Linked DNA regions of Homo sapiens: region 1 is linked to region 2. Evidence: fine-mapped expression QTL. Tissue or cell type: skeletal muscle. Region 2 holds a variant in brackets; the other region holds the start of a gene. All regions are shown on one strand. Distances are between the middles of the regions.

What was found. PIP is the estimated chance that this variant, and not a neighbour inherited with it, causes the effect.
Region 1: it holds the start of SLC27A6, and the variant in region 2 is fine-mapped to the expression of SLC27A6 in skeletal muscle (FUSION, PIP 0.95).

The regions. Positions count from the first base shown.
Region 1 is chr5:128,961,674-128,969,781 of GRCh38, forward strand. SLC27A6 (solute carrier family 27 member 6) reads left to right here and starts at 3,815. Exons shown (of 10, transcript NM_001017372.3): 1 at 3,815-4,945. The coding sequence starts at 4,465.
Region 2 is chr5:128,724,505-128,732,612 of GRCh38, forward strand. It overlaps LOC105379168 (a long non-coding RNA gene), which reads left to right. Exons shown (of 7, transcript XR_001742460.1): 4 at 3,950-4,071. Among named protein-coding and RNA genes, the nearest start is that of FBN2, 190 kb to the left of the region's middle. The variant A/G (reference allele first, on the strand shown) is at 3,525.

The sequences.
Region 1 (8,108 bases), 240 kb after region 2:
AAGTTTTTTATTACCAATCATCTGAAGCCTTCTTCTCTCAACTCGTCAAAGTCATTCCCCGTCCAGCTTTGTTCCATTGCTGGTGAGTAGCTGCGTTCCTTTGGAGGAGAAGAGGCGCTCTGATTTTTAGAATTTTCAGCTTTTCTGCTCTGGTTCCCCCCATCTTTGTGGTTTTATCTACCTTCGGTCTTTGATGATGGTGATGTACAGATGGGGTTTTGGTGTGGATGTCCTTTCCGTTTGTTAGTATTCCTTCTAACAGTCAGGACCCTCAGCTGCAGGTCTGTTGGAGTTTGCTGGAGGTCCACTCCAGACCCTGTTTGCCTGAGTATCACCAGCAGAGGCTGCTGAACAGAAAATATTGCAGAATGGCCATTGTTGCTGCCTGATCCTTCCCTGGAAACTTCATCTCAGAGGTGCACCCGGCTGGATGAGGTGTCAGTCGGCCCCTACTGGGAGTTGCCTCCCAGTTAGGCTACTCGGGGTCAGGGACCCATTTGAGGAGGCAGTCTGTCCATTCTCAGATCTCAAACTCTGTGCTGGTAGAACCACTACTCTCTTCAAAGCTGTCAGAAGGGGACATTTAAGTCTGCAGAAGTGTCTGCTGCCTTTTGTTCAGCTATGCCCTGCCCCCAGGGGTGGAGTCTACAGAGGCAGGCAGGCCTGGTTGAACTGAGGTGGGCTCCATCTAGTTTGAGCTTCCTGGCCACTTTGTTTACCTATTCAAGCCTCAGCAATGGAGGATGCCCCTCCCCCAGCCTCGCTGCTGCCTTGCAGTTGGATCTCAGACTGCTGTGTTATCAGTAAGCGAGGCTCCGTGCACGCCTCTTATTTTTAATGTTCGGTTTGCTTCATGAGTCCTTGTGTCGAATACTATTCTGGGCAATGATTATTCATTAATACAAATAAACATTAGATTATAGGAAGAGTAAGCTTCCCATGATAACCGAAGTTATTATCAGATCCTAAAAGCAATAATTAAAAACCCTGTTCCCAGGTAGAATTGTAAAGTGGATGACTCCTGCATCCAGCATTCTCCCATTCATTTTTAGAGCCATCCAACTCCCTCAGTCACTTCACTGCCATTCCCTTTCCCAAGCCCCGGCTGCCGTCTAGATAGTCAGAGCTTCTTGGCCCATTGCAAGCACTCATCATGATGTTTAGCCACCAACCCAGCATTGTTTGGCATCTTTCTAAATTTCTTGGTTTTCACTCAAACCTCCCATAATCCAAATGATGACTGCTATAGAATTCCATCAGAAGACTTATGAAGACAAGTGATTTGACAGCAAAGAGTCAGAATTCTTAGGTTACAGTGGCAAAATCCTGTAGGCTCCATGTCTGTCATATATTGCTATTTGTTCAGTCTTACTTTGATCTACTCACTAAACAATTCATCCTCTATAGAACTGAGGGTGCAAAGGTGGTTGGTAGTGGGTTAAAGAGGAAAGTCAAATCAGAAATGAAGAAGAGGTTGAAGAGACCACATGTAGATTAAAAATAAACTTTTTTGGGGCATTGATTTTCATTTAGTCACAATATTTTTATTTTCAAATAACATTAAAGAAAAACAAACAGTCTTTATGTTTTTTAAAGGAGAAGCAGAGAAATATTACACTATTCCTAGTCAAAAGTAATGTTAGCAGGAATGTCTAGACTATTTCTATGTGTTTATTTCTCTTTATTTTAGTTAAATGATAGATTTACTCACTTGCAACTAACTCTTGCTATATTTCTCCCATTTCAAAATTCTTAAACTATTGTAGCTAAAAATTGTATCTATTTTACTTAGCTGCCTTTGGTAGCATTTGAAAGTGAATGCAAAATTTCTGGACAAAATAGAAACAGGTACATGGGCTAATATAGGAATATACACAATACTGTTAACTGTCCCAAGATTTTTCATTGATTATGTCTTCCATGGTGAGATTTCAGGCATAAAATTGGTTTGGGTTAGTACAAAGTCTGGCCCAACATATGCTTACTTGTAGTTCTTCCTAATAAGTCAAACAAGCTCACATTTATGGTGCTGAATATATTCTAGATTCATTGTATCTGTAGTTGCTAAAAATTTAGTTCCATGCCTTAGGATGGTATTAGAATGTCCATGATAAGAAAAATAAGTGCAGCAAAATAAAAGAAATGCCACGCCTATCTTTCTGTATTATTTTTTCCACTGGAGAAGGACAGATTTTACTCATTAAAACTACAAAAGTCTGAGACCAACTGCTCCATATTCTTTTGTGTTCGTTAAATGTTGTTATTTGGAGGTGACTTAATTAGACTAAAGCTAGAAGAGAAAACAATAGAATGTCAAAGATGCTTTTCAAGTTGTAAACTAATGTTTTAAGTTATAAACTACTTGATACTATTTTCTTAATTAAAAAGATATTTCTGAATCGAAAAGATCAAAGCTTCTGAGTAAATTTAGAAAGCATTTTTTTGTCATTTACAGAAAAGGGCTTTAAGAGCCTATGTTCCTTTGGCTTTAAGAGCTCTTCACTGTGACTTCAAAGTAATCATTTTCAGATTAATAAACTGGAGCTCGTCTTTGGAATTATCAGTTTTTCTTTTATTACAGAATCTGAGGTTAGCCAGAATCCATCTGCAGAACATGAGGCAGAAGGGAGAAACACCTAACAAGGTGAGGCCTTCCTTAACTATTTTAACACAAGCAATTAACCATTTATACTCACTTAAAAGCAGACAGCTGGGATGATGGTGTCTGCTAAAAAAAAAAAGTGTAATGAAATGTTCTTTAGTTTTTTGATCTTTAGTAAAATTTCATCTTCGTATAAAATTTTATTAACCATTCCACTAACTTGTTACTTCTCCACTCCACCTCCCCACTCCCTTTAGAATCCTTAGTTTGAAGACATAATTCTTTAAATGATCTGTCTCAGGGAGGGGGGATCTTGTTACTTTTAAGGACTGCAAATAGCATTATAAACTTTGTTTTTATTTTTAAATACGAATATCGACTGAAGCTCTCAAATCAATCAATATTGTTGCCAAATTTTGTAAAACGCACTGTCTTAGCTCTCTAACGATAGAGTTCTAATATAAATGTAAAAACCAACCTATCAACATGTTTTCAAAAATACTTTTTGTAAAGAACAGTACAATTTTGTGGTGTCCAAATATTCCTTTCTTTCTTACAAAATATTATTGGATCTGTCCAGTTCATAAATATTCCTGCCCTCTCTTCCTCCCTCCCTGCCTCTCTCTCCCTGCAGTTTTTTTGATGTTTGTTCTTTTCTTTCCATTTTCTAGTTATTAATTGGTTCAATGGATGACCTTTGTGCGACACTGTTATACCTTATCAGCCTCGCCAGGGCCCCCGCGCCGCCCAATCCCAGCAACTCTGGTTCTCCTGTGACCCCAAGCCTTCCAGATCCCTGGGTTTCCCCCCACGGGACTGTCACATTCTTCCCCGCCGGAGACGCCAGTCGCGGGGCCTCCTCCCTGGGGTGTGAGCAGGTCGGCGCGCCACACTTCTCTAGGTGGCCGGACGCGCGCCCAGGGAGGAGCTGGCGGCGGGGCCCAGGCTGTTCCGGCTGCGGCACGCCAGGGGATGTGGTTAGCCCTGAGCCTGGAGGCCGAAGGTGGGCAGGCAACACTCCCACCATGTTTCGGAGGAGAATACACTAGGCTAGCCTAACGACACTCGGAGTGCGAGCTGCGGCTGGGGTAGGGGCACCCCTTTCCAGCGGGCGCGTGGGTCACCAAGGAGCAGTTCTCCGGGACCCGTTGCGTCAGAGGGACTGGGCGGGGCTGGGCGGGGCAGGACGGGGGCGGCGCTCAGGAACCCTGGAACCCGCTGGCCCTGAGGCCACGGACCGAGACGTGGTGCTGAGCCCCTGCGCGGTTTCTGGTGCGTAGAGACTGTAAATCGCTGCGCTTCTCAGTCATCATCATCCCAGCTTTTCCCGGCTCGAATTCAGCCTCCAACTCAAGCTCGCGGGAAAGACTACCTGAGAGGAGAAAAGCTTCTGTCCCTGGACCTTCTTCTGAGGGTGGTGAGGTTTGTTTAGGGTCGCAGAAGCAGGGAGGACTGACTCAGCCCTCACAGAGAAGAGGTCTGGAAAGTCCTGGGGAACTCGCAGGGCACGGGCCGCTGTCGCGGTTGGGAGGCGAGGGCGCAGCGCTGGGGTTGTAGATTCCAAGACCCCTGAGGGTGGCTGTGTTGGTTTCTCGCAGGAGTCGGAGGCTCCCTGCTTTCCAGCCGCCCAGTGACCCAAGCTTAATCTTCAGCACCACTTGGGGCGACCTTTTCGGTGCAAACCTACGATTCTGTTTCTCAGGATTCCTCCCCATCCCGCTTCGCCCCGGAAAAGCTGACAAGAACTTCAGGTGTAAGCCCTGAGTAGTGAGGATCTGCGGTCTCCGTGGAGAGCTGTGCCTGGAAGAGAAGGACGCTGGTGGGGGCTGAGATCAGAGCTGTCTTCTGGCCCAGTTGCCCCCATGCTTCTGTCATGGCTAACAGTTCTAGGGGCTGGAATGGTCGTCCTGCACTTCTTGCAGAAACTCCTGTTCCCTTACTTTTGGGATGACTTCTGGTTCGTGTTGAAGGTGGTGCTCATTATAATTCGGCTGAAGAAGTATGAAAAGAGAGGGGAGCTGGTGACTGTGCTGGATAAATTCTTGAGTCATGCCAAAAGACAACCTCGGAAACCTTTCATCATCTATGAGGGAGACATCTACACCTATCAGGATGTAGACAAAAGGAGCAGCAGAGTGGCCCATGTCTTCCTGAACCATTCCTCTCTGAAAAAGGGGGACACGGTGGCTCTGCTGATGAGCAATGAGCCGGACTTCGTTCACGTGTGGTTCGGCCTCGCCAAGCTGGGCTGCGTGGTGGCCTTTCTCAACACCAACATTCGCTCCAACTCCCTCCTGAATTGCATCCGCGCCTGTGGGCCCAGAGCCCTAGTGGTGGGCGCAGGTAGAGTATGGGGTGTGGTCTGCCTATACAGAATGGCAGCCCACCTGCTTTCATACCCTTTTTTTTTTCTTTAGGATAATTCGTAACTAATATTTTGGGTGAGTGAAGTGTGCATGTTAAGAGTACAAAATAGTTTTATGATTCTATGCTGGTTTAACAACTGTCTCCTCCCTTCAGGCACGTAGTTTCAGAAAACTTTTATGAAATCTCTGCTTCCTACCATTTTGAGACAGGGACAGTTTTACTGCTATTGGTTCCTTCAGTGAGTGCAAGAACACACAGAGAACTTGGTCACTTCTAAATTTTATCAGCTCTGACAAAATGGTGAATAGGAAAGTTATCTGACTTCATTGTGACACGTCTACCTACCTCTAATTGTACTTTATCAGGGATGACTACATTTGCAGAAGAGATATGTTTAAAGGAAGGTACCTGAATTCCTTTCTTCATGTCTGCTCTTATTTTATACTGTCTGCAAGCTAGGACTTGCCTAGCAAGGTTGCGCTCCCACCTGTGAGCCAGAACGTGGGCTCTTGGCAGACTCTAGGAGCCTTTCTGTTTCTTCTTCTTATCCTTCCATGCATCCTTTTCTTTTTTTGACTAAGTTCTACCCTTCCTCCTCCCCCTGCCTTGGAGTTAGGACATCTTAGGCTACACGTATTTTCACTGAACTGTAAAGAAAAGCCTGGGGTTTAGTGGCTAATTAGTAAAGAAGCTAGGAAGATGGGTTGCTTAATGAAATAGAAGTGAAATATGAAAAATGATACTTATTTGGTGTAATCTAAATGGTTTATGCAGAGTCTTCTTCAATGGGGAAGGAAGGTGCGGAAAGAGGAAGATCCATTGCAAGGACCATAATGAAAATATTTAAGTATTTTAGATTAATAGATACATACCAATACCTTGTATAAAGTTTTTAAACTCACAGAACAATATGGAAAAATATATTTATACCCTGGTGATCTCTAAGGTATAGAACTTTTCAAATAACCTTTATGATATAATATTTGTATATCAAACCAAAGTGAGTTAGGCAGTATATGGAAAATGGGCTAGCCCTTCAAGGCTATCACTGTTCCTAGTTCTTTTCAGTTCAACTTGTGGTCTGATAAAGTGGCAAATGTATACTTTTTCTTATTTATTATTATTTTTTATTATTATACTTTAAGTTCTAGAGTACATGTGCACAAAGTGCAGGTTTGTTATGTATGTATACATGTGCCATGTTAGTGTGCTGCACCCATTAACTCATCATTTACATTAGGTATTCCTCCTAATGCTATCCCTCCCCACTCCCCCCACCCCACGACAGGCCCTGGTGTGTGATGTTCCCCACCCTGTGTCCAAGTATTCTCATTTTTCAGTTCCCACCTATGAGTGAGAACATGTGGTGTTTGGTTTTCTGTCCTTGTGATAGTTTGCTCAGAATGATGGTTTCCAGCTTCATCCATGTCCCTACAAAGGACATGAACTCATCCTTTTTTATGGCTGCATGGTATTCCATGGTGCATATGTGCCTCATTTTCTTAATCAAGTCTATCATTGATGGACATTTGGGTTGGCTCCAAGTCTTTGCTATTGAGAAAAGTGCCGCAATAAACATACATGTGTGTGTGTCTTTATAGAGGCATGATTTAGAATCCTTTGGGTATATACCCGGTAATGGGATGGCTGGGTCAAATGGTATTTCTAGTTCTAGATCCTTGAGGAATCACCACACCGTCTTCCACAATGGTTGAACTAATTTACACTCCCACCAACAGTGTCAAAGTGTTCCTATTTCTCCACATCCTCTCCCGCACCTATTGTTTCCTGACTTTTTAATGATCGCCATTCTAACTGGTGTGAGATGGTATCTCATTGTGGTTTTGATTTGCATTTCTCTGATGGCCAGTGATGATGAGCATTTTTTCATGTGTCTGTTGGCTACATAAATGTCTTCTTTGGAGAAGTGTCTGTTCATATCCTTTGCCCACTTTTTGATGGGGTTGTTTGATTTTTTTCTTGTAAATTTCTTTAAGTTCTTTGTAGATTCTAGATATTAGCCATTTGTCAGATGGGTAGATTGTAAAAATTTTCTCCCATTCTATAGGTTGCCTGTTCACTCTGATGGCAGTTTCTTTTGCTGTACAGAAGCTCTTTAGTTTAATTAGATCCCATTTGTCAATTTTGGCTTTTGTTGCCATTGCTTTTGGTGTTTTAGACATGAAGTCCTTGCCCATGCCTATGTCCTGAATGGTATTGCCTAGATTTTCTTCTATGGTTCTAATGGTTTTAGGTCTAACATTTAAGTCTTTAATCCATCTTGAATTAAATTTTGTATAAGGTGTAAGGAAGGTATCCAGTTTCAGCTTTCTACATATGGCTAGCCAGTTTTCCCAGCACCATTTATTAAATAGGGAATCGTTTCCCCATTTCTTGTTTTTGTCAGGTTTGTCAAAGATCAGATGGCTGTAGATGTGTGGTATTATTTCTGAGGGCTCTGTTCTGCTCCGTTGGTCTATATCTCTGTTTTGGTACTAGTACCATGCTGTTTTGGTTGCTGTAGCCCTGTAGTATAGTTTGAAGTCAGGTATCGTGATGCCTCCAGCTTTGCTCTTTTTGCTTAGGATTGTCTTGGCAATGCAGGCTCTTTTTTGGTTCCGTATGAACTTTAAAGTAGTTTTTTCCAATTCTGTGAAGAAAGTCATTGGTAGCTTGATGGGGATGGCATTGAATCTATAAGTTACCTTGGGCAGTATGGCCATTTTCATGATATTGATTCTTCCTATCCATGGGCATGGAATGTTCTTCCATTTGTTTGTGTCCTCTTTTTATTTCGTTGAGCAGTGGTTTGTAGTTCTCCTTGAAGAGGTCCTTCACATCCCTTGTAAGTTGGATTCCTAGGTATTTTATTCTCTTTGTAGCAATTGTGAATGGGAGATCACTCATGATTTGGCTCTCTGTTTGTCTGTTTTTGGTGTAAAGGAATGCTTGTGATTTTTGCACATTGATTTTCTGTCCTGAGACTGCTGAAGTTGCTTATCAGCTTAAGGAGATTTTGGGCTGAGATGCTGGGGTTCTCTAAATATACAATCATGTCATCTGCAAACAGGGACAATTTGACTTCCTCTTTTCCTAATTGAATACCTTTTATTTCTTTCTCCTGCCTGATTGCCCTGGC
Region 2 (8,108 bases):
GGAAGAAGAGAAATATATGCACCCCTTCTTGGCAGACTGCTTACAGGCAAAGGAAGCAATGGCTGCTGTAGGGAAAGTGAGCAAATGATGTTGCTCTAGAGGTCATCTGGGTGCTCATGTCTTCCTTCTGCCCAATTCTCAGGAGCATTAGTCCTGGAGCTAGTGCTTGTGGGTCAACAGAAGATTCAACTAAATCACTATAAAAGTGAAGGTCCAGAGTAAGGTAGACACTTCCCATGACCAGAATTATTAATTTGCAGTAAAGAAAATACTTTTTTTCTTTTTAAAAAGGGAAGGTTGCTTTTTTCAGATTTACATAAAAGTAAAAAAAACCCTACCTGTAATCACAGCACTTTGGGTGGCTAAGGTGGGAGGATCAGTTGAGACCAGGAGTTCAAGACCAGCCTGGGCAACATGGTAAGACCCTGTCTCTTCTAAAGAATTAAAAAAATATTATCCTGGCCTGGTGGTACACATCTTTAGTCTCAGGAGGCTGAGGCAGGAGGATCACTGAGCCCAGCAGTTTGAGGTTACAGTGAACCGTGATTGCACCACTGCACTTCAGCATGGACAACAAAGCAAGAACCTGTCTCTAAAGCAAATAAACAAACAAAAAAGTAAATAAACTCCTATTTAAGTAACTCTTAACCCAGATGCTGTAAAATAAGAAATATTGTGTGTGTGGGAGTAAGAGTAAGCCTGGAGAATGGATTCCATTTCTACTGTTTGTTTGTAGAAACCATGATTATGGGGCTATGGGGCTGTAATTCTCTCTGAGATTTGAGAAGAGAGACATAAATATAAATAATAAATATATCTTCTTATATTTATTGAATATATAAATTCAATATTGAATTTACGTTCAAATTCAATAGGCAGCAGTGTGCAGGAGACATACTTAAATAGTTTGCATACTGTATTAGTCTGTTTTCGTGCTGCTGATAAAGACATACATGAGACTAGGTAATTTATAAAGAAAAAGAGGTTTCATGAATTCACAATTCCACGTGGCTGGGGAGGCCTCATAATCATGGCAGAAGGCAAAAGGCATATTTACATGGTGGCAGGGAACAGAAAGAATGAGAGCCAAGTGAAAGGGGAACCCTCTTACGAAACCATCAGATCTTGTGAGAGTTATCCACTACCATGAGAACAGAATCTTCTACCAGATACACTAAATCATCTCTCTCAAGTTCAAAGTTCCACAAATCTCTAGAGCAGGGGCAAAATGCCATCAGTCTCTTTGCTAAAACACAGCAAGACTCACCTTTATTCCAGTTCCCAACAAGGTCCTCATCTCCATCTGAGACCACCTCAGCCTGGATTTCATTGTCCATATCATTATCAGCATTTTGGTCAAAGCCATTCAACAAGTCTCCAAACTTTCCCACATGTTTCTGTATTCTTCTGAGCCCTCCAAAGTGTTCCAACCTCTGCCTGTTATCCAGTTCCAAAGCTGCTTCAACATTATTGGGTATCTTTACAGCAGCATCCCCACTCTACTGGTACCAATTTACTGTATTAGTCTGTTTTCATGCTGCTGATATAGACATACATGAAACTGAGTAATTTATAAAGAAAAAGAGATTTAATAAACTCACAGTTCCACATGGCTGGAGTGGCCTCACAATCATGGTGGAAGGCAAAAGGCATGTCTTACATGCCTCACAATCATGGTGGAAGGCAAAAAGCAGGGAACAGAGAGAACGAGAGCTATGCAAAAGGGATTTCTCCTTATAAAGCCATCAGATGTCTTGAGACGTACTACCACAAGAATAGTACAGGAGAAATCACCCCCGTGATTCAATTATCTCCCCCCGGGTCCTTTCCACACATGTGAGAATTATGAGAGCAACAATTCAAGATAAGATTTGGGTGGGGACACAGCCAAACCATATCACAAAAACATGCAAACACATCTTAGTTGAATAAACCTTGCAAAACCCCGTACACCAAATGCCTTGCTTAAGCCTGCCTTCTGTCCCATGGTCACGCATTCACTGCAGTGAGGATATTGATAGGTTTCTGTAAAGATGACATGAACTTTGGGATAGATTTTGTAATAAAGCTGCCTTCTAGATGTCCAATTTCTAAATCTGCACTAACTTGTTTTCAGAATATAAAATGTATTATTATAATTTAAATTTTACAGTCATATTTTTGAAAGAAAAGGTTTTTAAAAATTTTAGTTCTATTTCAATCTGAAAAAGTAAAACAGTTCATAACACAAAAACAAAGATGCTGTAACAGTGTCAGAAGAATAGTCTTTAACACATATTGAGATTTATGTGTATATTTCTGACTAGTTCTCTAAAACCACACTAATAAAGGGTTCGATCTTTTGATGATGATAATAAAACTATTTTATCCATAAGATATACACTAAAGTGAATATAATTAATAGATTCATTATCTTTTATTAAATCATTTATATTCATATTTTCTTCCCTACCCAAGCAGAATCCTTTAGAACACATTCCACATTAGTTTACTTTTACACCACCTACAACTTAAATTAGGGTAAATTATCAAATAATATTAGTTGAAGAAATTCATTTATTTTTACCCTGATTCTGGCTCCCTTTTATGTGTTTGTGGTATGGCTAACAGTCTGTGGACCTTAAAATATCTTAGAGAAAATGACAAATTAGAAAATCCTTTAGACATTTTCAACAACATCTTTCTCCTTAAAATTTTGCACTCAGGAGGATTTCTTCCTACAATTTTCTACTTTTTCTTCAAATTAAGCATTTATATTCACTCCAAATTCTTTTCTATTTGACAATAGATGTAAGTTGATAAATAACTGTAACCTTTTATAAAGCAGGCTTTAACTTTATATATAACAAATACATATTAAAGTCCATCCACATTTGGGTCAGCAATATGTCTTCTTGATTTCTGTCTTAAAAAGAAATAACCAGTCAACCATGCAATTTGCTTTCATAATTTTGCCCACAACACAGCTGTTCTTCATTAGTACATATATTTTCCGATCAGGGTAAATTTCCAGATAGTAATAATTTTTTTAAAATTAGCTTTTTCTTCTCTGGGCTTAAATAAAAATGATTTTCAGACATTGTTACAAGCTGATGATCTTTCATCAATTTCTTTAACCAAACTTAAACTTTTGAGAATGTCTAAGGGTTTACTTTGTCATCAAGTCAAAACCAACAATGTAGGTGTTATCTTTATCCCAGAAATCATGTCATAGTGAACCAAGATGGCCTTGTATATGTATAGTATAAGAACTAAGTATAAGATGACATGCCAGGAACAGGTTGGCTTTCTAGAGCTTTGTCCAGTCACCTTCTGAACAAAAGCAGATGAACTTTCTTGTTATCATAAAGCCTTGGTCCCAATCAAAAGGCAAATAGCCCAGTGAGGATGGTACTTAAAATTATCAGCCATTTTTACTTTTGTGTAATAGAGAAAAACAAGTTTTAAGACATCTGTAGAAAGAAGAGACTACAAAGACTGAACAACTGAAAAGAGGCAAAAGGTAGCATAGAAAGCAAAAAAAA[A/G]AAAAAAAAAAAAGAAAAAAAAGGACCTAGTAAGAGAAAATTGTGGCCAAAGATAAATGTCAAAGACTGTCTCTGGTATCAGCTACAGTTATGTTACTAAGATCTATCCACCGTACTCATTCTAGTTACCACATTCTACAATAAGTTGATAAGTTAAGTAGTAGTCTTTTCTAGGAGTAATACAAAAGATTCTCTTTACTTAAAACCCTAGAGTTCAGAAATTAAAAATGAAGAAGAACAAATGAAAGCCATAGTTCTAATGCAGAAGTTGGGAGCAGAGTCCCAGTGTATATTAATTGTGTGGTATGTAAAATGGTTTCGAGGAACAACTGTAGAATAATGAAAAGGACTATGATGAATATATTCTCCTATTGGGATGAAGCGTATGTATTGCAGAAATAAACGCCAATATTTTTTCCATACAGGGATTAATTACATGGTCAACAGCTGGAATTTACAAGGAGGCAAATTAAATAAAATAGCAGACAAGCATGAACTGCATTCCCACAAAAGCCATAAAATGGGAATACCAAGAGAACTGGCAAATGTAAGTCTTCACCTGTTTTCTTGGACACAGCTTTCCACACACAAGTTGGGGAGTGGAAATTTGTGAGTAGCACACTGTGTGCCACATTGGAAAGATTCAATATGAACATTTTTTCTTTTTTTATTATTATTTTACTTTAAGTTCCAGGATACATGTGCAGAATGTGCAGGTTTGTTACATAGTTATACGTGTGCCATGATGGTTTGCTGCACCTATCAACCCATCACCTAGGTTTCAAGCCCCACATGCGTTAGCTATTTGCCCTGATGCTCTCCCTCCTCTTGCTCCCCTCCCAATAGGCCCCAGTGTGTGTTGTTCCCCTCCCTGTGTCCATGTGTTCCCATTGTTCAACTCACACTTATGAGTGAGAACATCAGGTGTTTGGTTTTCTGTTCCTGTGTAACTTGGCTGAGGATAATGGCTTCCAGCTTCATCCATGTCCCTGCAAAGGAAACGATCTCATTCCTTTTTATGGCTTCATAGTAGTCCATGGTGTATATGTATCACATTTTCTTTATGCAGTCTATCATTGGTGGGCATTTGGGTTGGTTCCATGTCTTTTCTATTGTAAATAGTGCTGCAATAAACATATGTGTGCATGTATATTTATAATAGAATTATTTATATTCCTTTGGGTATATGCCCAGTAATGGGATTGCTGGATTAAATGGCATTTCTGGTTCTAGATCCTTGCAGAATTGCCACACTGTCTTCCACAATGGTTGAACCAATTCACATTCCCACCAACAGTGTAAAAGTGTTTCTATTTCTCCACAGTCTTGCCAGTATCTGTTGTTTTTTGAGTTTTTAATAATTGCCATTCAAATCTCTGAGTAGAACAATAACGAGTTCTGAAATTGAGGCAGTAATAAATAGCCTACGAACCAAAAAAAAGCCCATGACCAGACGGAGTCACAGCCGACTTCTACCAGAGGTACAAAGGGGAGCTGGTACCATTTCTTCTGAAACTATTCCAAACAACTGAAAAGGGGGGATTCCTCCCTAATTCATTTTATGAGGCCAGTATCATCCTGATACCAAAACCTGGCAGACACACAACAAAAAAAGAAAACTTCAGGACAATATTCCTGATGAACATCAATGTGAAAATCCTCAATAAAATCCTGGCAAACCAAATCTAGCAGCACATTAAAAAGCACATCCATCACAATCAATTCGGGTTCATCCCTGGGATGCAAGGCTGGTTCAACATACACAAATCAATAAACATAATCCATCACATAAACAGGACCAATGACAAAAACCACACAATCATCTCAATAGATACAGAAAAGGCCTCCAGTAAAATTCAACATTTCTTCATGTTAAGAACTCTCAATAAACTAGGTATTGAAATAATCAAAATAATAAGAGCTATTTATGACAAACCCACAATATTAAAATAATAAGAGCTATTTATGACAAAACCACAGCCAATATCATACAAAATGGGCAAAAGCTGGAAGCATTCCCTTTGAAAAGCAGCATAAGACAAGGATGCCCTCTCTTACCCCTTCTATTCAATATAGTATTGGAAGTGCTGGCCAGGGCAATCAGGCAAGAGACAGAAATAAAGAGTACTCAAATAGGAAGAGAGGAAGTCAAATTGTCTGTTTGCAGATGACATCATGCAACTTCGGCAAAATCAACGTCCAAAAATCACAAGCATTCCTATACACCAACAATAGGCAAGCAGAGAGCCAAATCATGAGTGACCTCCCATTCACAATTGTTACAAAGAGAATAAAATACCTAGGAATACAGCTAACAAGGGGTGTGAAGGACCTCTTCAAAAAGAACTATAAACCACTGCTCAAAGAAATAAGAGAGGACACAAAGAAATGAAAAACATTCCATGCTCATGGATAGGAAGAATCAATATCATGGAAATGGCCATACTGCCCAAATTAATTTATAGATTCAATGCTATTCCCATCAAACTACCATTGACATTCTTCACAGAATTAGAAAAAACTACTTTGAAATTCATATGGAACCAAAAAAGAGGCTGTATAGCCAAGACAATTCTAAGCAAAAAGAACAAAGCTGGAGGCATCATGCTACCTGACTTCAAACTATACTATAAGGCTACAGTAACCAAAACAGCATGGTACTGGTACCAAAACAGATATATAGACCAATGGAACAGAACAGAGGCCTCAGAAATAATGCCACACATCTGCAACCATCTGATCTTTGACAAACCTGACAAAAACAAGCAATATGGAAAGGACTCCCTATTTTTAATAAATGGTGCTGGGAAAATTGGACATAGGCAGAAAACTTAAACTGGATGCCTTCTTTACACCTCATACAAAAATTAACTCAAGATGGACTTAAAGACTTAAATATAAAACCCCAAATCATAAAAACCGTAGAAAAAAACCTAGGCAATACCATTCAGGATACAGGCATGGGCAAAGATTTTATGAAGAAATTGCCAAAAGCAATTGCAACAAAAGCTAAAATTGACAAATTGGATCTAATTAAAGAGCTTCTGCACAGCAAAAGAAACTATCATCAGAATGAAAAGGCAACCTACAGAATGGGAGAAAATTTTTGCAATCTACCCATCTGACAAAGGTCTATTATCCAGAATTTACAAGGTACTTAAGCAAATTTACCAGAAAAAAAACAAACAACACCATCAAAAAGTGGGCAAAGGATATAAACAGACACTTTTCGATATCAACAATTTTATGCAACTATTTTTAAAAACCTGTGCCTCAGGATAAGAATGTTTCTAATGTACTTGAACTTGAGTGAGGACACCTGCCCAACAATTTCCTCTTAAAGAAGTGGCTGGAGCTAAAGGCATAGTCAAGGTTAATACTCCTTTTTCTTTATCCGAACTCTCCCAAATCAGTTAGCGTTTAGGCTCTTTTTCATCAAATATGAAAATCCAGCCCAGTTCATGGCCCGTTTGGCAACAACCCTTAGACACTTTACAGCCCTAGACCCTGAAGGGTCAGAAGGCCGTCTTATTCTCAATATGCATTTTATTACCCAATCTGCTCTCAACATTAAATAAAGGTCCAAAAATTAAATTCTGGCCCTCAAACCCCACAACAGGACTTAATTAACCTCGACTTCAAGATGTGCAATAATAGAGAAGAGTTGCAATTACTTGTCTCTGCTGTGAGAGAAACCCCAGCCACATCTCCAGCACAAAAGAACTTCAAAATGCCTAAACCACAGCGGTCAGGTGTTCCTTCAGGACTTCCTCCCCCAGGATCTTGCTTCAAGTGCCAGAAATCTGGCCACTGGGCCAAGGGATGCCTGCAGCCCAGGATTCCTCCTAAGCCATGTCCCATCTGTGTGGGATCCCACTGGAAATTGGACTGTCCAACTGGCCCAAGGCTCTGACTCCTTCCCAGATCTTCTCGGCTTAGCGGCTGAAGACTGACTCTGCCTGATTGCTTCGGAATCCTCCTGGACCATCACAGACGCTTTGGGTAACTCTTAACAGTGGAGGATAAGTCCATCCCCTTCTTAATCAATATGGAACCTACCCACTCCAAATTACCTTCTTTTCCAGGGGCTGTTTCCCTTGCCTCCATAACTGTTGTGTGTATTGATGGCCAGGCTTCTAAACCTCTTAAAACTCCCCAACTCTGGTGCCAACTTGGACAGTATTCTTTTATGCACTCCTTTTTAGTTATCCCCACCTGCCCAGTTCCCTTATTAGGCTGAGACATTTTAACTAAATTATCTGCTTCCCTGACTATTCCTAGGCTACAGCCACACCTCATTGCTGCCCTTTTCCCCAGTTCAAAGCCTCCTTCACATCCTCCCCTTGTATCTCCCCACCTTAATCCACAAGTATAGGACACCTCTACTCCCTCCTTGGCAACCAATCGTGCACCCCTTACCATCCCATTAAAACCTAATCACCCTTACCACGCTCGACATCGCCAATATCCCACCCTATAGCACGCTTTAAAAGAATTAAAGCCTGTTATCACTCGCCTGTTACAGCATGGCCTTTTAAAGCCTATAAACCCTCCTTACAATTCCCCCATTTCACCTGTCCTAAA